2 separate regions of the Homo sapiens genome follow, and region 2 is linked to region 1. A link means that fine-mapping ties the variant in region 1 to the expression of a gene that starts in the linked region. Tissue or cell type: tibial nerve. Region 1 holds a variant in brackets; the other region holds the start of a gene. All regions are shown on one strand. Distances are from middle to middle.

Region 1 (10,794 bases):
CTCAGTAAATATTAATATGAAGACTGCGCAACATGGTAAGCTTTCTCATCAGCCCTCAGCATCCTCGCTGAGTAATTTTGTTGGTATGTTAAATTTACCAACCACACATGGAAACTGAAAGCTAGAATTTTTCCCCAGAATCATTTGGAATAACTGTAACATTTTTTTTCTTTCAGATTATCTTAGAGTTCAAAGGTAATCAAGAAAATACATATCGCCTCTTACTATTCAATGTGTGAATTCATTCTAAAATATTAGAGAGAACACATTTAAGACAATTTCAGGGTTATGTCAAATTGTGAATGTTACATAAACAACAAATAATTTTCAGATATGTCTTTGGGCTTATCAAGAGAAAGTGGCATATGTAAAGTTTCTGAAGAAAGCATAGATTTCATTAATGGCACAATTTAGTTTAAGTGTTGTCATAAATTCCCTGTGAGGAGCACAGATAGGAAATGTAGGCTTTCTTCAGCTAAAGCAGACCTGGGAAGGATGTTAACACAATGGACAGACCAAGACAAGAAACCTGGAGGTCCAGTGTGCTCTGCTCACTGTTGGAATACTGCCCAAGTAGTTCCAAATATGAGTTAGTAATATTTTTATTGGAAGCTCAAAAACACTTCTTCCCTCAGTAGCTTTCTGACATTCGCATTAGTTCACCACATTCTGAAAATAGATATTTGGCTCCCAGCATCTTATCAAACCACAGAGTAGTATTAACTATAATTTACATTTCAAACAGTTTCCCTCAAACATGTCCACATCTGCATATGTCTCCAAAGCTTTTTTGCTTTTTTTTAGCTCATCAAACTTTGTGAACTATTTTATACAATGATCAATTATGAACTCATGCCACTAAAGAATCTCCCAGGTTCATGGATAATAACACCAGTGTATGAGCTAATTCTAGGCTATGAATTATGGTATCATAGAAAACAAGCCCCTGGAAACTCTTCTTCAGGGTGTTGAATGAAACCATATTTCCAGTCATTCTCTCTCAATCACAACAATAACAGTTAATATACATTAAAGATTGTGCTAAGTGCTTTGCAATGCCCTATGAGGTACCACTTCCAGCCTTATTTTACACACAGATGAAATAAACTTTTGAGCCACAGACTTGCTCAAGATGAGAAACCTAGTAAGTGAGAAAGTGTGTCCTCTCACCCCAGCCTCTATGACACAGAACCTGGGCTCTTTACCACTCAGTTCCATCTTGCCTCAGAACCAGAACTATTAAATCTGTTCAAGCAATCAGTGCTTTCAGAGAGGGACATGAGTAGATTATAAAGACTGCGTAAGTACACACTCACTTTCCAGCATTCCTAGTTTTTTGGATTGCTCAAGGAGAGAGAGTTGCCCGAAAAATACACACACAACTCCTCTCTTTGTCAGCAAAAAGCAGGCCCTCAGAGAACTCAGCCAAAGGGAAGCGGAAGAACATAAGATTACCCCTGCAGGACAGTGAGTGATGGGTTAGCCAACAAAGATAGAAAGAAGTACTGTGCTTGGCAAGTGATGTCTATAAAAGGCCAGTCTTTTCTCACAAATCTGAGTAGCAACAAGAGTGACAAGAAAGGGAAAAGGCAGGGGGAGAGGAGAGCGAGCGAGCCGTGGAGGCCTGTATCAGTGGTCATGACAGTGTGAGTGGCACTGGTGGCTGTTTTTGGAAGCAATGACAGATATAATCAGCTGAAAACAGCAGAAAAACAAATCATTCGAGATAGAAGACAGAACAGCTTTGCTGCTATGGGGGACAGCCAGCCACCTGTCTCTGGTTTCTGCAGTCCTTTGAGGTCTGGGCAGGAAACTCCAGCCTGGGCAGGGTGGAATGAGGGCAGGCAGCTGCCTCTGCTCAGTGGCCCCCAAATGCATCCGCATTCCCTGCTGGGGCAGCCTAGCCAGTACAGATGGACCATCAGAGGAGGGAAGAGGACATAGTCACGCGATGTGGCATCCCAGCGATGCGTGAAAGCCATTCCTGGGCAATGACATCTGCAGCCACAGCACAGTCCTTAACTGATTTTCACACAGTCCTGTTCTGCAGAGGCAACACTAAGCAGGAGGGCAACGGGGCTTCTCATGCCTTCTGCCATTCTTTGATAGGGATAAATGATGCATTCTCAATCATCAAAAAATTCCTCCTCCAGATTGCTGCCTTTATGTCTCTCCCATATAGAAAGGCTGGAGTTGCCCTACCATCACCATGTGACTGTCGCAAACTGTTCACCATGTTCTGTTAAAAAGTGCCAGGAAGTGTTCGCAATGTTTCAAAAGAGATATTTCCATTAAGAAGAAAGTTAAAATGTTATGGCTAGGTACTTAAATAGTTGTTCCACTATTTAGCGGGGAAAACTGTTCAGTTTCATTTCCCAAAGACATTTGTGGTTTTATTTTATACAGTTCTATGTGATTCGAATGATATTTTGAGGACTGCTATAACAATAAAAGTTTTGGGTTTCTGAAGGGTGCTCAGATTGAAGGGCTATAGTGACAGTTTTTTAGCAATGTTAGGCCAGGTGCTGGATACAGAAAACATCCCTTGGTCCTCAGGCCTAACCAGATGGAACAAGACCACAGTGCACATGTGCTAATCACCCACTTCTTCCCTGACAGCTTTGCCGATTCCTGCAGGTAGGAATGTAAATGGTCATTAACACACACTTCCTACAATTTGGACTGCTCAGGTGCCAGCTCTTGAGGTACTCTGTGACCGTTTTAACTGCAAGTAATTTTGCCCTGTCAAACTTCTATGACATTGGGCACCTCTCTCCTGGAAGCCCACTCTGTACCTATGTTGGAGTCAGCTGTGGGTATAGCTTATCTCTTCCATTGAACTGTAAACTCCATAAGGGCAGAAGTCCTTCTGAACCACCTTCATGTCCCTGCCTCCTCCTGCTCCCCTGCCAGCACTATGAGCGTAAGACCAGACCTCATTTCTCCCTTCATCCTAATGCCATATCAACACTGCACACCACATACCCACCACCCACCAGTAGCCACTCTGAAGCCTGCTGGCCACATGTGTGGGCCTCAGCTGATTGTCTACTGCTGGACCCCTTCTGGTTTGCTCTTCCCATGCATTCATCCTTCCTCTCACATCTTGTTGCCCTGCACCAATGGGGTGATAGATGGAATATCAGATGTCTCCTGGAGGACCAGTCCTGCCAATAGGGTCCCATTCTAATAGCCAGTTGATTCCACCATGTCATGACAAAATTCTTTACAGCTTCCAACTGTAAAGTTCACTTGAGAAGTTAAGACAAATCATGCTCATTTTCTAGAAAGTACAGATTCTATTTTTCAATTCAAAAACACATTTTTTTGCCTGTGTATGGCCACCCTATCCAAAATTTCCACCCCTATCCCCAGTACTCACCATCCTCTTTTCCTACTTTTAGAATTTTTCTTAGCACTTTTTACTAATATACTCCATATTTTACTTACTTATTGCTATGGTTTGAATATCTCTTCCAAAACCCATGTTGAAATGTAATTGCCATTATAAAAGTATTAAGAGGTGGAGCCTTTAAGGAGTGATTAGGACATGAGGCCCCTGCCTTCATGAATGGACGAATGCTATTATCTTGGGAGTGGGTTAATTATCATGGGAGTGGGCTCCCAATAAAAGGTTGAAGTTTGGCTCTTATCCTCTCATTTCCCATGCTCGCCTGTCCTTCTGCCTTCTGCCATGGGATGATGCAGCATGAAGGCCCCACCAGAAGCCAACACCATGCTTTTGGACTTCCCAGTCTTCAGAACCATGAGCTAAATATAATTCTATTATTTATAATCACCCAGTCTGTGGGATTCCGCTATATCAACATAAAATGGAGGAAGACACTTATCTTGTTTATTATTTGTCCCTCTTGATAGAATATAAGTCCCATGAAGGCAAGAATTTTGATTTCTTTATTATTCCTATGTCCATTGCAGTTCCTGGCTGAGAAAAGTCACCCAACAAACATTATTTGGGTAAATGAAGGAGCAGGTAGTGAATGAAGGGAGGTGTCTGTTCCTTTCTGGCCAGACCACTGGCTACCCAAGGCTGTGGGCATCCTCTCCTCCTGTCCATGGGAAGGAATTCTCCCAGCCTGTCCATCATGCCCCTCGGGAGCCTGGCTTGTTGGCTTTCTGCTCTTCCCATGATGCAGCACTCACCTTCAGCTTGTGCTCATGCTCCTTGTTGACGCGGGCCAGCAGCTGGGCTTTTCTTCTGTTGAGGGCATCGATGAGGGCATCACATTGGGCCACCAGACAGGCTTCAAACTCCACACTGTTCTCCTGTGTAACAGAGCACATTTCTCAACTGCAAGCTGCTGGGTGCCTCAGGCTGCCAGAGAAAACAGAGCTCCCCCATCCTGCTGAAGGGAATGAAAAGGAACTCTGTCCACAATGCACATTTGGTAATTTTAAAAAAATAACTGGATAAACTTTATTCTACAGTGGTCATGTTTTGCTTTAAATTTAGATTAAAAGGGATAAATATTTATCACTTAAATTTATCAAAAGGAAATCATCTCCACAATTTGAATTCTATTAAGCAAAACAAAGCTTTAGTTCATAGAGTTGTTTATGAATGTTTTTGAGGGCCACATATGTTCAGCTATGTATGGTGGAAGCTGGCATTCAAAAAGGCAATGAGGAGGGAGTGGGGCATTGCTGAGGCACGAGAAATCATTAAATTCAAAGGAATAAAGAAGAAAAAGGATGGCACTGGTCTTCAATATTAACAATAATCCAATGAGAACAGAAGTTTATAAGAATAATGGGTAAAAGTACTTGCCCCTTTCATTAAGGAAAGCAAATAGTAGGCAGAAAAAAACAATCAATGTGTGTAACAGGGATCACCCTGCCATAAAAATCAGATATGACCCAACACCTTGCAGGGGAAAGGCAACTTCATACTAAGTGAATTATAGCTTCCCTGTGATGTTTAAATTAAATGCTGGATATAACCTTTTTATTTGATTTAAATCTGTACATGCCATAGACATTTATTTTAAGCAATTCTTTCAATGAGTTATATGCAGTTATTAAGGATAAGCTTTTCAATGAGTAATATATGCAATTTTGCATATATATGCATAATCTGAAAAAAAGTAATTTACAGTAAACGAAAGCTAAATACTCACATATACGTTAGTAATACTTAAAAAACACCACCCAGTTGAGTAAACTGTAAACTTTTGGGGCTGGCAAGAAAGGCACAATTTAAATTTATTTAAGGCACAAATTTAAATTTATTACCAAAGTCATAAAGAACTGTGTCTTTTTATATAATAATCAACTGGTAGGCATTTAGTAATTGTTTTCAAATGCAAGGTCTTCGTATAAGGAATGCATTAGTAATTGCTTGAGCAATGCTAAATTTTGGCTTTCACGGCAATTGCTTTTGAACTCTCAGAGAAGGCCTTTGGAAAACATCATTTAAGAGCTCTCTATGCCACATGCAGGGTAATATTGGAGGGTGGGGTGAGGGGAAACCTTCTCCTTGTAAGCTCTGTCACTGATTTAGAGCAGAAAGAAAGCTTTGCTCTGATGAAGAGGCCCGGGCAGAGGCAAGCCTGGGGCTGCACATTTTATGCCAGCAGAGTAAAGAAAGAACTGA[T/C]TGATAAACTCCATTGCTTTGGAAAACAGAAGGAAGTATACAAAACTGCTAGGCTGTTAGGGAATCAAAAGTTTAACATGGGCATGTGTGCCAAAAAAAAAGGCAAAGAAATCAGTGTGTAATTCTTTGAAAGGGTGGCTTACATTTAAAAATCCATTTCTACCTTGACATGGTTAAATATGAACTTAGGCAATTTACTGGAGGCCAGAACTAAGGTTATTTCTGTGAGGCAAACCTCAAAACATAAGAATGCTAAACAGTACAGAAGGTCATTATTTTACTGTCTTATACAGTTTATGGTTTTTCTCCTTCAGCTATAGTGGAGAATTTATGAGCTCTTAAATGCTGGTTGAATTGCTGGTCATTGTGTCTAGATAAAGCAATCTGAAATTATAGTTGCCAGGGGATCATGGTTGAAAAATATTTAAATGTCTAAGCAGAGGAGAAGCATTATTGTGGGTCAGGGAGGAAGAAAAGAAGAAAGAAAGGCAGAAAGGGAGGAAGAAAAAAGAGGAAGAAGGAACAAGGGAGGAATGAAAAAGAAAAAAAGGAAGGCAGGAAGGAAATGAAGGAAGAAAAGAAGAGAAAACTGTGGCCTGTTACCATTAAATGATACAATTATTACAAGGTGTTTTGGAAACCTACAAGGTTTTACAAGCTCAACAATAAGGACCCTGAGTTTACAAAAAAATAGGCCTCTTTCTGAATATTCAGTAGTAGAGAATTAGGACCTCAGTGTGGAAGACAGGAACCAGTTGGAAAATCAGGCTGTGTTTCCGGCTTGTTGGCAAAAAGTAACTACCTCAAGAAGGGGTATGTTTGAAGTTGATCTCTATGTGTTTGTATGTAAAGAACAACAACAACCACAAAATAGGAATTTTCCCACGACACATAAAAATAAAAGAGGAGAAGGAAACTCTCCCGCCACACAGTTACGTATTAACCGGCGGGTTTCCTTGCGTCCCAGGTAACACCCATACCTGGATCTGCTGGACCATGTTGCGCAGCTGTACCAGAAACTCCTTGGCTTCTTTGGCCCTGTCTGACAGTCCGTTCAGCGCCTGGGAGAGCTGGCTCTGCAAAGACAAAGAAGGAAGCCATGGAGCTGTAATCACAGGATACACCAACAAGGCCAGCGAGACTCAAAACTGAAGAGTCATCAACCTCCTCAGATTCCTCTTGTCTGAGGTTGGACCTTTTTGCTGGCATTTGTACAGGTAGATTCTGGTGTCGAAACTCCCTGTGCTCCTGAGTAGTTTCTCCTTGGAAGCAGTGAACACTTCTGGCCACAGCAGTCAAAGGCCCTCACCAGCTGATATCAACCTAGAATTTCTTCATCTCCTCCTTCATTGATTAATTAAACAATCATTTATTGAATACATATTTGCTAAGGACTAAAAAAGCAAAACAAAATAGTGAGTCAGATGATCTAATTCTTATCAACGTTACTTAGCACAAAGGGCTATTGGTCTGGGTAGGGCAGAAAGAATAGAGTAAAGAACAGGATGAAGGAAGGGGTAGGTACTGGTGTGATCCTCTGGGGCCACTTAAATATAATCACAAATTCAATGGGCAGGATGACATTCCACTCCTGCCTCATCCGTGTCCTCTTCCTTCTCCCAAGTACAGCCCTGCTGCCCTAGCACATTTGTGTCCTCTCCTCACTAGCCTCCGACACCAAGGCTTACTCTCTTTCTTTCTTCCCACACCACCCCATCCATACGAGGAGGCAGTTCTGCTGGGTTGGCAAGGTGTCCAGGTAGGTACTTGCTCTTCCAGCCTCCTCGTCCGCTGGGGAGGCCGTGGTACACAATCCTGACGGACGACACCTAAGTGGAAGTCTGCTGGGGACTGGAGGGGTCTGAGAAAGCTTTTGCTTTTCTGCTGATACGGAACCACTGTGATTGATGCAGCCTCTCCACTGTGGTTCCTGACTTTAGGATGGATGTGATGTCTTCCGGCTCACATGAGGAGAAGGCCAATAGGGTATGGGTGGAGGGATGGGAGGGGAAGGAGCTCGGTTCTGATGGCATCTTTGAGCAGCTGAGTCAACACCTGAAACCTTCACCACTAGCTTTCTTGTTATGTGATAAAAATTAACTCCTATTCAAGTCACTGTTCTGGAGTTTTCTATTGCTAGCAGGAATTTATATCAAGTATCACTGTACTTGATACAAATTCCTTCCCCTCCTAGCAGTCTGGGTATACCCTTCCGTACCTCAGGTACAGAGACAGACTCCCTTTCCTGCACTGTCTTCTTTTCAAATTAAAGCCTATTCTCCTTGCCAACACAATGATTCATCTACCCTTTCCTTTCTGTAAAAGGGCAGAACCTTAAAATTATATCTCTTGGTGCTGTGAATGCTTTTCTCTTATATTTGTCTTTTAAATACAAAGTTGGGCACTGACTCTCTAAAAATATGCACACCAAATGCTTGGTTGAGGCAATGTGGGATGGTAGAAAGAATATAGGTTTGAAAGGGTGCAGATTCTCGCTCTATCCCCTATAAGTGTGACCTTGAGAAAGTTACCTTTGTCTGAATTACTCCAATGGAAAAGGTGGGAAGAACAGTAATACTTTGTAGTTGGGTTATTGTGAGGGTTGAATGCATTAATCAATGTGAAAGCTTCTGCTAGTTAAGGGAACAATTCTGAATTCTGAAATGCTGCCAGTTACTGGCTGTTCAACCCTTTATACATTGTTTTACCTCATCCATAAAATCAGAGGAAGAATACTATTCTTGGGTTTTGTGGGCATTGCATAAGATACTATATCTAAAGCCCAGAACCCTATTACCCTACTGGTGCACAGTGCATGATGCGTGCTTAATAAATGCTGGCTGTTAACTTTTTTTTTTTTTTTTTTTTTTTTTTTTTGAGACAGAGTCTCACTCTCTCACCCAGGCTGAAGTGCAATGGTGTGATCTTGGCTCACTGCAATCTCTGCCTCCCAGGTTCAAGCGATTCTCCTGCCTCAGCCTCCCGAATAGCTGGGATTACAGCCGTGCACCACCACACCGAGTGAACTTTTGTATTTTTAGTAGAGATGGGGTTTCTCCATGTTGGCCAGGCTGGTCTCAAACTCCTGACCTCAGGTGATCCACCCACCTCGACCTCCCAAAGTGCTGGGATTACAGGTGTGAGCCACCGTGCCCAACCAGCTGTTAACTCTTATTTGTTTTCTTCATTCTTGCTCACACAAACACCTGCTGACTGGAGGGATTCGCAGGACAGATTCCTGGAACAGGGTCTGTTGGAGAACATTTTCGATCACCTGTACTTTGCTCTATGTATTTAGGCTCCAAGAGGCAAGACCAACACAACTGAGTAAGATAAAGCTCAAAGTGAGCCTACAGTTGCAAAATTCTTTATGATTGGGTCTCAGCTACAATATTATTTGGAGTAAAAGTTTCTCCTCAATAACTATTAATATTTCCAGGAGCCCAAGGGATAAAGGAGGGAAAAACGGTCTCATTTGGAAGAGCAGGCAATAATATGAGAGGCATATTTTAAAGAAGAAATTTTTTTTCATTGTTACTTTAGAACTCATATCTTTTTTTTTTCCTGAATGAGTAAAAGTTTGCTGGACTACCATAGTTTTCTTCCTCTTTTTATTATAACCTATGTTTAGTAACCACACTTAGATGTTTCAGTACAGAAGTAAAATTGATTTGGTTACACAGAAGTGAAGCTGCCTGGTGTCTTGTATTCCAACCTTGCAATTAATTGTGTCTGTATAAGACAGACTTGATACCCATAGATTTTTTGACCAGTTGCTGCTGTATACTTAGAAATACAATCATTCCTAGTAGTAGACAAAGAGTTTTGGCCCCATCTAGTCCCAGGATTTTATATGACAAAGCAGTAAGTGAACTGCAAAAATCAATTTATTTCCAATTTCCTCTTTGTGTTTATGGTCCGTCCCAAGAATGCCTTCTACCTGGCTGATGATTGTTCTGGTATTTGATAAAAAATTGCATTATAAGATAAAGATCTAGAAATCATTCTCTTAAGCTTTGTCCACTTGTAGAAATTGAGGAGACAATGAAAAATCCTGGAAAACTATCACTAGAAAGTGCTCTTATTGTAAGGATTTATATGCACATTGTTTTTATAGGTTGGTATTTTAATCACATTTATAAGCTCCATCTGATGTAGAAGAACATTGTTATTGACTGATTTTGTTTCCCAGATGCATTTAAATTCCTACTCTGTGCTAACAAAGATGTTCTGCATTCAGGACCACAGAGCAGTGCTGGAAATTTATGACCAGAACAATGAAGATGCAAATATGTAGTATGTGTTTTCATCACGGCATCTTTGGTGGTACAAGCAGTCATTTAAGGGAGAAAGGTACGTTCTAAAGCTGTTTATAATGCCTAAGCAGTGACATTCGGATTTCTTGGATATTTGTTTTCTAGGTTACTGAAAAGGTGTCACGATCTGAAGGTGAATGAGAGGAGAAAAATGATGCAGCTGAAGCCCTGATCTCCAGTCAAGTTGTTCTTGGCTGGGAGCATGCTGAGAATCACCGAGGTCTCCCAGAAAGATGACAAGTTGTTCAAGCCTGAAGGAGAGAAACAAAGAACTCTGCCTCCTCCTTCCCTCCTTGCGTGGCTTTCGTCCTCAGCTTCCACCCTGACCCTGGCTCCCCTTGCCTCCCCAGGAGGGAGAGATCAGGCACTTACCCTGGGACTGACTGTGGAGGACGTTTCAGGACCTACTTCTCACGCTCAGCAAATGGGTAATGCAATTCAATCCATCCCGCCCAATGCCTGACTTGCCCAAGCTGCTGAGTGTGCCCAGGCAGAAGACAGTATCTTCTTTCCATTTCCCACTGTAAACATTCTTCACGTGGCCTTTTCCCCTCAATTCACCACAAATATTGGATAGCGATAAACTGGGACAAATGAAAAGAAGCTTTCTGGCTGTCTCGGATCTGAAGTTACAGGCACAGGATGGGTCAAAAGGGTCACTCGAAGAGTTGGTACAAAACAGAGGAGGCGGCAAACAAGCACTGGCAGCTTGATGGCTCAGAAAATGACCCAGCTGCCTCCCCGGGCGTGGGGCACCTTCTGGTGCTGTATCACAGTGCATGCCATTCAGGCACCGCAACACCACTGGGCCCAGGAGCCAAAGCCCACTCCCGCTCCTTCCCAGGTACAAAGATAAACACAACA
Region 2 (10,794 bases), 72 kb after region 1:
CTAAGCAGATATTTTTCTCCAGGATATTTTAGAATTGAAGGCATATTAACTGACAGTTTATTTTAAAATATTGTTTAAATTGCAAATTTTCATTTATAAAAACAAAGGTAAGAGAAAAATAACATTTGAGACAAGATTAAGAATGAATAGTGTTTAGAATAGAAAGGAAAAGAAAATCTTTGCTCAGTAGCATGAACACAGAATAATTGTTACAAATATGTTACTGATTCAGTGACTTCATTTTTTTATTTTGAGACAGTCTTGCATCGTCACCCAGGCTACAGTGCAGTGGTGAGATCCTGGCTCACTGCAACCTCTGCCTCCCAGGTTCAAGCAATTCTCCTGCCTCAGCCACCCAAGTAGCTGGAACTACAAGGCATGCACCACCATGCCCAGCTAATTTTTGATTTTTCAGTAGAAATGGAGTCTCAACATGCTGGTCAGGCTGGTCTTAAATCCTGGCCGCAAGAGATCTGACCGCCTCGGCCTCCCAAAGTGCTGGGATTACAGGCATAATCCAGTGCACCCAGCCCTGATTCAGTGACTATTGAAACCCCAGGAATTCAAGGATAATATCAGGATTTAGGAATGTGAACTGCTTAAAATCACAAAGTAATAGTAGTGGTTTCTATTGCCCATTTTAAAGTATCTACAAAATCACTTTTTTGGTGTTATAATTCTTTTAACAAGTACGTTGAATAAAGGAATATAGTTAAGTACTGGCACTAAATAAAAACTGCTACCAAATATTTGACTTATAAGACCATTATTATTATTATTATTATTCATGTGTTATTATTTTTCATGGAGTTTTGAAGACCAAAAATATCTGAAAAACATTTTAATCTGGCCAGTTGAAAACTAGTGAATTTCAACCAGATGTTTTTAATACCACTTTAAAAATAAACTGCAGCCATTTTATTATATCTTGAGTGTGTAAGATGATGATTTATGCCTGTGGGAAATACTTATCTGCAGGACTTGCTTTATCAGTAGAAATGACTAATATGATAGAATATGAATGACAACTTTTCAGGTCTAGTAATAACCTGTGTTGATAACTAACTGCCCAATTTTGGAAACCTAGTTAGTATAGTTCTTTGCTGTCCTATTTTTGCAGGGCATAGAAATTCTGGCCCATGGGCTTTTGTGGAGATAGAAGTACCATTAACTAAAACATAAACTATATGAGAAAACTGGCTGCTAACACATTAACTTCCTTATTAAGTAAATAAGGTGGGGGAGTAATGTTTGTTGTTCATCTAACAGATGACAAGTGAATGTTAAAATCTGTCATCCTTCTGTCTTATTTTTTTTCTTGGCAGTTTAGTAATCCTCATATTGACTGAACAAAAATTATGTGTCCTTACTGTTTTGGAAAAAATGTGCAAAAGATCAGAGAATAAATGGTCTTCTAGCCTACTTATGTCATGTTTCAAGGGTTTTAACATTCTTTTGTGGCAGGTAGATATCTAAATCTCAACCCAGGCAGCACCAGTGTCTGTCTACTCATAATTTCTATTGCCAATAAAACAAATGATTTAACATTTCAAATTGACATGGGGCTTGACAGAGATTTAAAGGTTTCTTTTGGTCTTAATAGATCAAGGATAGGCTTGTCATAAAAAAAATAATAATGTTGTGGTTTACCCATCCTAATTACCTTGTGGCTCTAAATTCTTTTTCCTGACAGAGTGATTAATTTTTTAGTTCCAAGGATACTTTGTAGGGCAATTCAACATGGACTATAATTAGCAGTTTAAAAGTGAAATCAAAATATGAATAAAAAACTAGCTGTGAACTCAAGTTTTGAAAACTTTCAAAATTAAATGTCATTTTCAAAAATTTAAATTCGACTGTTCTGAAAACAGTGGTGTGTGCCCAGTTAGGCTTCAATTTGTGCTAAATGAAATCCCCATCAGTACTAATATGATTTAATAGGTTATATGTGAGAATAGAATGACTGTAAACATGGATCACATTCAACCGGGTTAAGGAGTTGAGAAAACTTTCACTGATTGCTGAAAATTAATGACATTTTTTTCTTGCTGTAAACAAAATATCAATGTTCCAGCCTTAACTCCACAGTTGGCCACTTGCAAAAGCTACCCTTTCTAGTCTCCAAGGAATTCTGGGAGACTCTGAGCAAGGCCACAGCTGAGGCCTGGACACTATCTTCACTGCTCCATCTCATCCTTGGGTATGCAACTCAGTGATGTAAAGAAAAGCTCCTTCCAACCATCCTGAATCCCTGCCCTGCACTCCACAGCCCCAACTAAATGGATCATTTAAAAAATGAAAAGCAAATTCATGCACATCTCCTCAAGAGTTGCTCCCTTCCTTCTAAGCAGTGTGGGCATATTATAAGGATCTTCTTCCTCATGAGGCTTATTTCGTTTATGTCTGTGTGTGTACAGGGAGCAATAGATAAATACAAAAAATAACATAATTAAAATATATAGCATGCCACACAGGGATAAATACTACTGAGGAAAATAAAGCTGAGAGGGAACTAGCGGGTGTCTGGGTGGGTGGCGCTGCAAAGATGATACCTGAGCAAAGAGCTGAAGGATGCAGGTAAGTGACCCATTCGGATCTCAGGTAACTGGGGAAGAGAGCTTCAGGCTGAATGAACACCAAATGCAAAGGCCCTGGAGTAGGGAGGTGCCTGGCGTCGTTTGAGGAACAGTAAGAAGCAGTGTGGCTGGAGCAGAGGGAGTAAGTGGGAGGCAATGAGGTCGAAGGGGCCAAAATGGAAGAGGTCATGTAGGACAGGCTGAGAAGCGTGGGAAAAATTGGAGGGTTTTGAGCAGAGGAGTGGCACGACAGAATATGTTGCTAAAGCCTCTTCGTGTCTAGCCATGGTGGAAATATCATCAAAAGAGACTGGAAAGATAAATCTGGTAACAGGTGTCCCAAAGTTTGCACATATAACTACTGAAAGAGGAAAGGGCTTGAATTCCGGAGAAGTGGGTGTGTGTATAGTTGGGAGGAGAAGGTTTCCCTAGGAGATGCACCTGTCTGGCTTCCAGGCCGCGACTGCGCAAACTCCGGTCCTGACACTCTAGTCTCAGGTCCCAACTCCGGAAGGGTTCAGGCCCAAGCCTGCACGTCGCGTTGCCATGGCGACCGCTGGCTGCCCTCTCCGCTCTGTCTTTTGAGCACGTGGCACCAGGACCCCGCGTTCTCTCCAGCTCGAGAGCCAGGTCTGGCCCAGAGCCGGGCTCATCAGTATTCCGCCTGCGGCGTCTCCCCGACCCTCCGCCGTGCCTCACCAGGTCCGCCTATCCAGCAGCGACAGACTCCCGCCGTCCGCGCGACCCCACCGCCCCCATCCCAGTCCCTCCCCGAGGGTTCGCAGCCCGCCCTGCCCTCGAGCGTGCCTAGCGGCCCTGGGCACTGGCGCGGCTCTACCCAGCTATGCAGTGCTTTCCCACACACTGGCCGCGGCCACTGGCTGCAGACCCGCCGCGGAAAGGGGGCGCCCTGAGTCCCGCTCGCAGGCAGCGCGCCCCGAGAGACCCGCTCTAAGGCATCCCCGCAACAACTCTGTGGGGGCATTCAACTCCCCCGTGCGCCGGTTAAGATTCCCCCATGCCTCCTGCAATGCACCAGACCAGGGAGGTAAACATCGAAGGCACCTGCATTGCGCCCCCACTGGGATGCGCTGTGCGCAAGAGACGGGGACCGTCTGCTGCAAAACCGGATGATCGGAGACGCAGGGAGTTAGGAGTGGGTTTTCTTAGGACTCACCTTATGTAGTTTCCACATGGCCCCCAGAGCCTTGACTTCGTGGCTGGAGTGTTTGCCCTCCTCCAAGCACTGGTAGCACACGGGCATCTTGCATTGCACGCAGTACATGCTGTGGTTCTCCAGCTCGTGGTCTGTGCAGGTGGAGACCTTGCGTGGGCTCAGCCTCCGGCTCACACGACCCTGGGCCGGGGGCACCAGGCGGTGCTTGGCTAGGGGCCCCCGGGGCGGGTGGCAGCGCAGGCGGCACGGATCGCAGTAGAAGACATCGCACTGTTCGCACATGACGGTGGCTTCCTTGGGCGCCTTCTCGCAGAGCTGGCACTTGAGGGCCGCGGCTTTGCTCTGCTGGTAGCGGTCAATTACCCCTTCCAGTACGCGATTCTTGGGGAAGCCGCGGAGCCCCCGGTCATCCAGGATGAGGCTGCGGTGACACTGGGGGCAGGTGATACAGGAGTTGCGGGGCACCGGGGCCAGGGCCGGTGACAAGTGGGTGGCCGGTGGCGGCATAGCCGGGGGAAACACGCGGACGCCGTTGGGGGACTTCTGGCACGGGGTAGTGGGGGCGCTGGCGAACCCCCCGTAGGAGCCATAGCCGCTGTCCGCCTCGCTGTATAGGCTCATCTTGTCCAGGTCCAGATAGTCATAGTCGGAGACCCCGGAGCCCGCGGCCCGATGGCTCTGGGGGGATTCAGACTCTGGGGTCTGCACCAGGATGTTGCGGGCGCACGCCTGACACAAATTGTGAGAGCAGGGCAGGATGATGGGCTCCCGATAGAAGGAGCCGCACACGGGGCATTTCAACTCCTCTTCCATCTCCTCCATGGGGACCGGTCTGGGAGGAGACAGCGACGGCTGCAGCGGGTGCCTGAGCTGGCGAGGTGGCCGACGGGCCCGTCTTGTCCAGCACCCTGGCCAGCGGCGGCGGCTGTGGTGGTGGTGCCTTCCCGCGCAGCACTGGCACGGACACCCAGAGAGGCGCTAGCTCTGTGAGCCGCAGCCGCGTAGCCGCCGCGCCGCGCGCCAGCCCGGACCGCCCCTACCTGCCCTCCTAGTCCCGCCCCGGCCCATGAGCAGCGGCCCATTGGGCGGGGGGCAAGAGATCGAAGCTCTCATTGGCCACCAGACCCGTCCGTCTCCTCGTCTCCGCAGGCCACAGGGGGTTCGGTAGAGTCTGAGGATAGGGCAGTCTTCGCTCGCGGCTGCAAGATCTCTGAAGGGGGCCGGCGTGCGGAGGCTAGGGGACCGGGAAGGAGGAGTTAGGCGGGATGATTCATCCTCGCCCGGCTTACTTCCGACCTCCGGTGCAGTCTCCCAGGAGCTGGGGGCGTGAGAAACCCCTCCCCGCAGCGAGTGGGCTGCCGGAGGGGGCTGGGGCTTCTCGCCAGCGTTTGCGTTTGGCTCCCAGCTCTGAGCTCCGCGCCCACCTACCGCGGGCGAGTGCTGCGCAGCACGGAGGACGCCCCTTCTCTTCCGCTGCTGGCAGCCTTCGCAGGCGTCTCACCCGGGCCTAGGCTTCTGCACGGCAGTGGGGCTTTTCTCCTTCTCCGTGAATCCGCTGACGCCGTGCCCTGGAGCTCCCCCATCCCGGGAGTCTGACGGCGCTGGCGCAAGCCCTGGCGACACTCTTGGCTTCTTTCATCCTGCGTCCCTCGTTTCCTAAAGAGCATGTATAAAGTCGATTTCCTAGTGTCGACATGAGATTCAACTGGGTAACCGATGGAAATGGTCAGCATTAGTCAGAATCTATGACCCCTTCGTTTCATGCTTTAAATTATAGCTCGGCCCAGAGGCCTCAGTGCCGTGGTGTGAACGTGCTTCCTTCCACGGATCCTTCTTCCTCCTCGCGGCCTCCCAAAGCACCTGGCTGAGCTTTTTCGAGGCCCGCTGGGCCTTTGGTTCGGTTGAGGCAAGAACAGTTTGTCTATTTCTGAGTGCCCGTAGTTTAGTAAAGCTCTGTAAATGAATCACTGTGTGACTGCGGAGTCTCAGTGTTTCACTCCAAACAGCATTATTCAACCCCACGTGCCCTGGGCATCTGCCATAGCTTACAGCATCGTGTGCCTTTCTGTTTCTTCCAACGAGGGGCATGGTGAGGCGGTGATTCTAGTGTTAGTCCCTGTACAAGGAGGGAGGGAGGGAGGGAAGAAGGGAAAGAGGGAGAGAGGGAGGAAGGAAGGGGGGGGGAAAGGAAAGGCGGAAGGAAGGGAAGAAAGGGAGGGAGGAAGAAGAAAAGGAAAGGAAAATCTTTGAGTCAAGTGACATTCTGAGGTAGTAACATTTGAAATAGTACATAGCCGGCTTTTGCTGAATGATTCATGAAGTAAAGGACAAAAACTCTTTGCAAGTTCTAGAAATATTCCAATTTTCCACCTTCCAGACAGGAGATAACTTGATTATATGCAGCTATGTTGATAATTTAAAAGTACTTTATTGTCCAGAAAAAAAATGGACATTTTATTACACTGCCCTTGTAGAAATTGTCCAATAAACTAGGTTATCTTTTCAACATCTTTAGTTGCAGTGAGAACAGTAGTTGATCATTGTGTGGGGGAATAAAGTCCCCATTGTTATTTAAAGCCATGTTAATCATAAATGTGACGTGATTTATTTTTAAGCTGGCTTTCAACTAGTTGAGACCAGAGCATCCAAAGGTATATGCACTCTGTTTACAGACATAGATAAAATTTCTTCAGGTATGGTTGGGACATTAGCTGCACTTGCAGGATACACTTAATTTATAGGTCCCAAGAGAAATTACTAATAATTATATTCAATATAGTATTAATTGAATTGTAATGAAAGTTAATTATTGAGAAAATATTAGAAAGGAGTGTCCTTTTATGGCTTTTGTATGCATTTGACCACAAGTCACAATATCTTGGACCAGCAAGGTGAGCAGCTGTTACACTTTGTATGAGTTTGAACTCTGCTTATAATAGTATATCATCTAAGAGATCTTATTAGCAGAAAGTTTATGCTTAGTTCAAAGTAAAGAAGAATTTTAGAGGATGTCTCATGGTGTAATGCAGTGTTGGGTTCGCAAAAAGAACAACACAGGTTTATAATATAGTCAATATAGAAAGATTTGGTCTATTATGAAGTCGCTTGAGATGATTTCATTGTTAGATCTGTTTGTTTAGGAATTAGCTAAATCAGTCAATCCTAGGAGAGCTCTTAAAATGACTCATTTGTTGAGAGTTCACCCTGTTCCAAACAGGGGATTTATTTATTTGTATACATTACTTGGTTAAATCCCTGTAATTACAAGAAGAGGTAGGCACAATTATTCCCATTTTACAGATAAATAAACTGAAGATAAGCAAAGACACTTAAGTACTCAAGGTCAAATATGGTGAGGCTGGGATTGGAACCCGGACACATATAAGTTTGTTCCTTTGTTCATTCATTCATTCATTCATTCATTCAACAAGTGCTGAGTTCTACTCTCTTCAAGCTCTGAATGTGATAAGTACCCAAAATGTTCTTTGTTAACTTCTATGATATTCTGCTCACCTTCTCTGAAAGTTTACTTTTTTTTTCCTTTTTTTTTTTTGAGACTGGAGTCTTGCTGTGTTCCCCAGGCTGGAGTGCAGTGGCACAATCTTGGCCCACTGCAACCTCCACCTCCCAGGTTTAAGTGTTTCTCGTGCCTCAGCCTCCTGAGTAGTTGGGACTACAGGTGTGCACCACCATGCCTGGCTAATTTTTACATTTTTTTTTTTTAGTAGAGACAGGGTTTCACTATGTTGGCCAGACTGGTCTCAAACTCCTGACCTCAAGTGATCCACCTGCCTCAGCCTCCCGAAGTGCTGGGATTACACGCATGAGCCAGCGCTCCCAGCCAAAAGTTTACTATTTTTCTTTGAATCCATTTCTTTAAAATATTCTTGAAGGCCTTTGAAGATTTTCCCCTCATGTTGCACTGTTTGGCCATAATGTGCTTTATAGCCCCCCAATGACTTATGTTTAAAAGGGAATAAAAATTGAAATGTAATTGGTAATATTATAGAAATATTATACTATTGAGGGGATATCTTCTGTCTTCCAGCTGGTGATCAGTCCATGCCCTGAAGCACAAGGATTGATAGCCCTGTAATTTCATCATTCCTGGGATGATTGCAGATGTTCTCTTTTGTGTAAAGTGCCTAATTATCCTTTGAAACTTACTATTCACCCAAATTATGTTCTTTAGCAATGAGAGCAATTACATTTAAAGTGCAACAACAGCTTTTGCATTTTTAAAAAAAGATAAATGTTTTTCTTTTTTTGATAAATGTTTTTCAATGAAAAATTGAGTTGCTTTCCTATTTGCTTTTGACTACAATGCTTGATTATTAACAAAACAGTCTCTGTGAGTCTAAAGAATGAACACAGAGAAGAAAGGTTTTTCTTTCCACATTCTCTCCTAGAGTAGTCTATCCTTAGTTGTGGGAGGGGGGTGGAAATCAGTGAAAGGAGCTGATCTTAGGCTCTAACATTTTAAGATTATCTGACATGTATATAAAAATATTTTATTAAGGTATTTGAATAAGGGTCTTGCTGCATGTGGTTTGTAAAAGTACATCACTTGAAAAGTGATAAATGTGATGTTTCTATTCTCAATAGAAATTCTGAAGAAACTTCTTTTATGGAATAATTTACCCCATTTAGTCTACTAATATTCAATTTTATACTTATAATTTTGTACTATTCTTTAATAACATTTATTGTTGATATCCTTTGGTAATTTAAATTATTTGATTATTATAGTGAATTATGAGCTTTTTCCCATTTAGTACTACTGGAAGATGGCCATATTCAAATTCTGTAGTATTTCTTATTGTAAGTAATATATTACTGATGCTTTGGGAAGGGTAGACTGGAGAATCGGAGAAAATGAAGATTTAATGAATCCTATATGGAGGTAAGAGAGCTAGAGGATAAATCCAGAAGACCTAACTTGTGAATAATAGGAATCTCAGAATGAGGAAATAACACAGGTGGAGGGAAAACCATAGTTGGAAAACATTTCTCTGAACCAAAAAAATATATAAAATTACAGATTGAAAGGATTTTAGAATTATAGATGACATTAATGAAAAAAGACCCAGTTATATACAGACACAATTCTTAACTCAGAAGAAAAAAAAAAGATCATTTTACAAGCTCCCAGAAAGAAAGAACAACTTAATTGTAAAGAAAAAAGAATCAGATTGGCATTGGACTGCTTTCTACAACCTTGCAGGTGAAAATAATGTGAAACAAATTCTACAGCCTACTAAAACTGAAAGAAGTCACCCTGTCATAGTCCGTTTTTGCTGCTATAACAGAATACCACAGACTGGATAATTTATAAGAAACAGAAATATATTGGCTCATGGTTCTGGAGGCTGGGAAGGCCCAAATCAAGACACTGGCATCTGGTGAGGGCCTTCTTGTTGCATCATCCCATGGTGGAAGGGCAGAGAGAGGGCAAGATAGAGGGCAAGAGGGAGCTGAACTTCTCCTTTTATAAGAAACCCACTCCCGCGATAAGAAACCTATTCCCATGGTAATGGCATTAATCCATCCATGAAGGTGGTGCCCCTGTGACCTAAACACTTCTTAAAGGTCCCAACTCCTGACACCTTCTCACTGGGGATCAAGTTTCTAACACATGAACTTTCGGGGACGCAGTCAAACCATAGCACAGCTTAAATATTTTATAGCCTGCCAAAAGATCATTTGCTTGTCTGGTCAAAGAAGAATATTTGCAAGAATTTAAAGAATAGAGCATTCACACATTCCATCTGAGAAAAATACTTAAGAAGACTTTTAAATAACAAATAAATCTTAACAGAGTCCCCAGAATGGGTTAGGAGCGAGTGGGGACCTGAAAGCATCCTAAGGACTTGATACTGGGGAGAAAGAAGAAATGAGAAAGGAAAGGTGGGAAATAAAATGTTTCTGTTGGAGGGATTATTTGGTATACTTTTTTCTTACATAATATTAAAACATTACATGTATTATTAGGCCTGGGAAAGGAATATAACTATTTATTCCGTGGAAAGTAAAATAGAACTTGCAAATTAACACACATGGGGAAAGTATTCTGTGAAACTCTATGACGACGATTTTTAAAACATAAAGGAAAGGGATACTTTCTGACAAAAATATATTAATTGAATCAATCCCTCAAAGTAGAAAGATTGAGTAGACCAACCTCCATAAAAGGGATTTGAAAGATAATTTCAGATTTGTCATTAATAAGGAGAGGATGGTTACACCGATGAGTTCTAGTTAAATTTTTTAAAATAAGCAACTTTAATGGTATTGAAATAATCAAAACTAAAGAAAAATATGGACTATTTCCCAGTCTATGAAGCCATCATAACTTTAATAACAAAACATGATTATATAGTTAATAGAGAACACAATAAATAAAAAACTATGGCCCAAAAACTAAGTGTTAGATGTAAAAGTGCTAAATAGGATGTCAGCAAATAGATTTCAGATTTGTATAACAAGATTAACAAACTATGACCAAGTAGGGTTTTTCCTACGACTGCAAATATAGTTGAGTATCAGGAAAACTATCAACAGAATTTATTACATGACAAATTAAAGGGGAAGAATTCCCTCTTTTGGCCACATGGGAGTAATCTTCCGTCCATCAATGACTAAAAAGCAGGAATAACTATAAGAAACAACCATTGTCAGACACTGGCAGGAAGTGTAGGGCTTTAATTCCTGGGAGAAGCCAACAAAGAGATGAGCCCTACCATCAGCCAGGATTTCTACCAGATGACAATTTCCAGGCTTTGGAACACAGAAGAGGAACCCAAACGAAGCTCACCAGTCTCCCCTAGTTGAAGAGACAGAGAATTTTGGGAAAGCCAAGAGAGCTAGAATTTGCAGAGAGTGAAGAGATAAACAGAGTTTCAGGTATCTGTGTGGGGATTTGCTTGGACTTTTGACTAAACACAATATGTGCATGTATAGGGTGAACCTCCACCAGACTGGACAGTAACAACTTCTGAGGAAAGAGCATTTATTGGAATTGTAATACCAACAATTCTAAGA

The links. PIP is the estimated chance that this variant, and not a neighbour inherited with it, causes the effect.
Region 2: it holds the start of TRIM9, and the variant in region 1 is fine-mapped to the expression of TRIM9 in tibial nerve (GTEx, PIP 0.99).

The regions. Positions count from the first base shown.
Region 1 is chr14:51,018,671-51,029,464 of GRCh38, forward strand. It overlaps TRIM9 (tripartite motif containing 9), which reads right to left. Exons shown (of 13, transcript NM_001387360.1): 2 at 6,595-6,690; 3 at 4,165-4,287. Among named protein-coding and RNA genes, the nearest start is that of TRIM9, 71 kb to the right of the region's middle. RefSeq lists an enhancer at 9,721-10,794. The variant T/C (reference allele first, on the strand shown) is at 5,615.
Region 2 is chr14:51,090,365-51,101,158 of GRCh38, forward strand. It overlaps TRIM9 (tripartite motif containing 9), which reads right to left and starts at 4,741. Exons shown (of 13, transcript NM_001387360.1): 1 at 3,754-4,741. The coding sequence starts at 4,575. RefSeq lists a silencer at 4,733-4,802.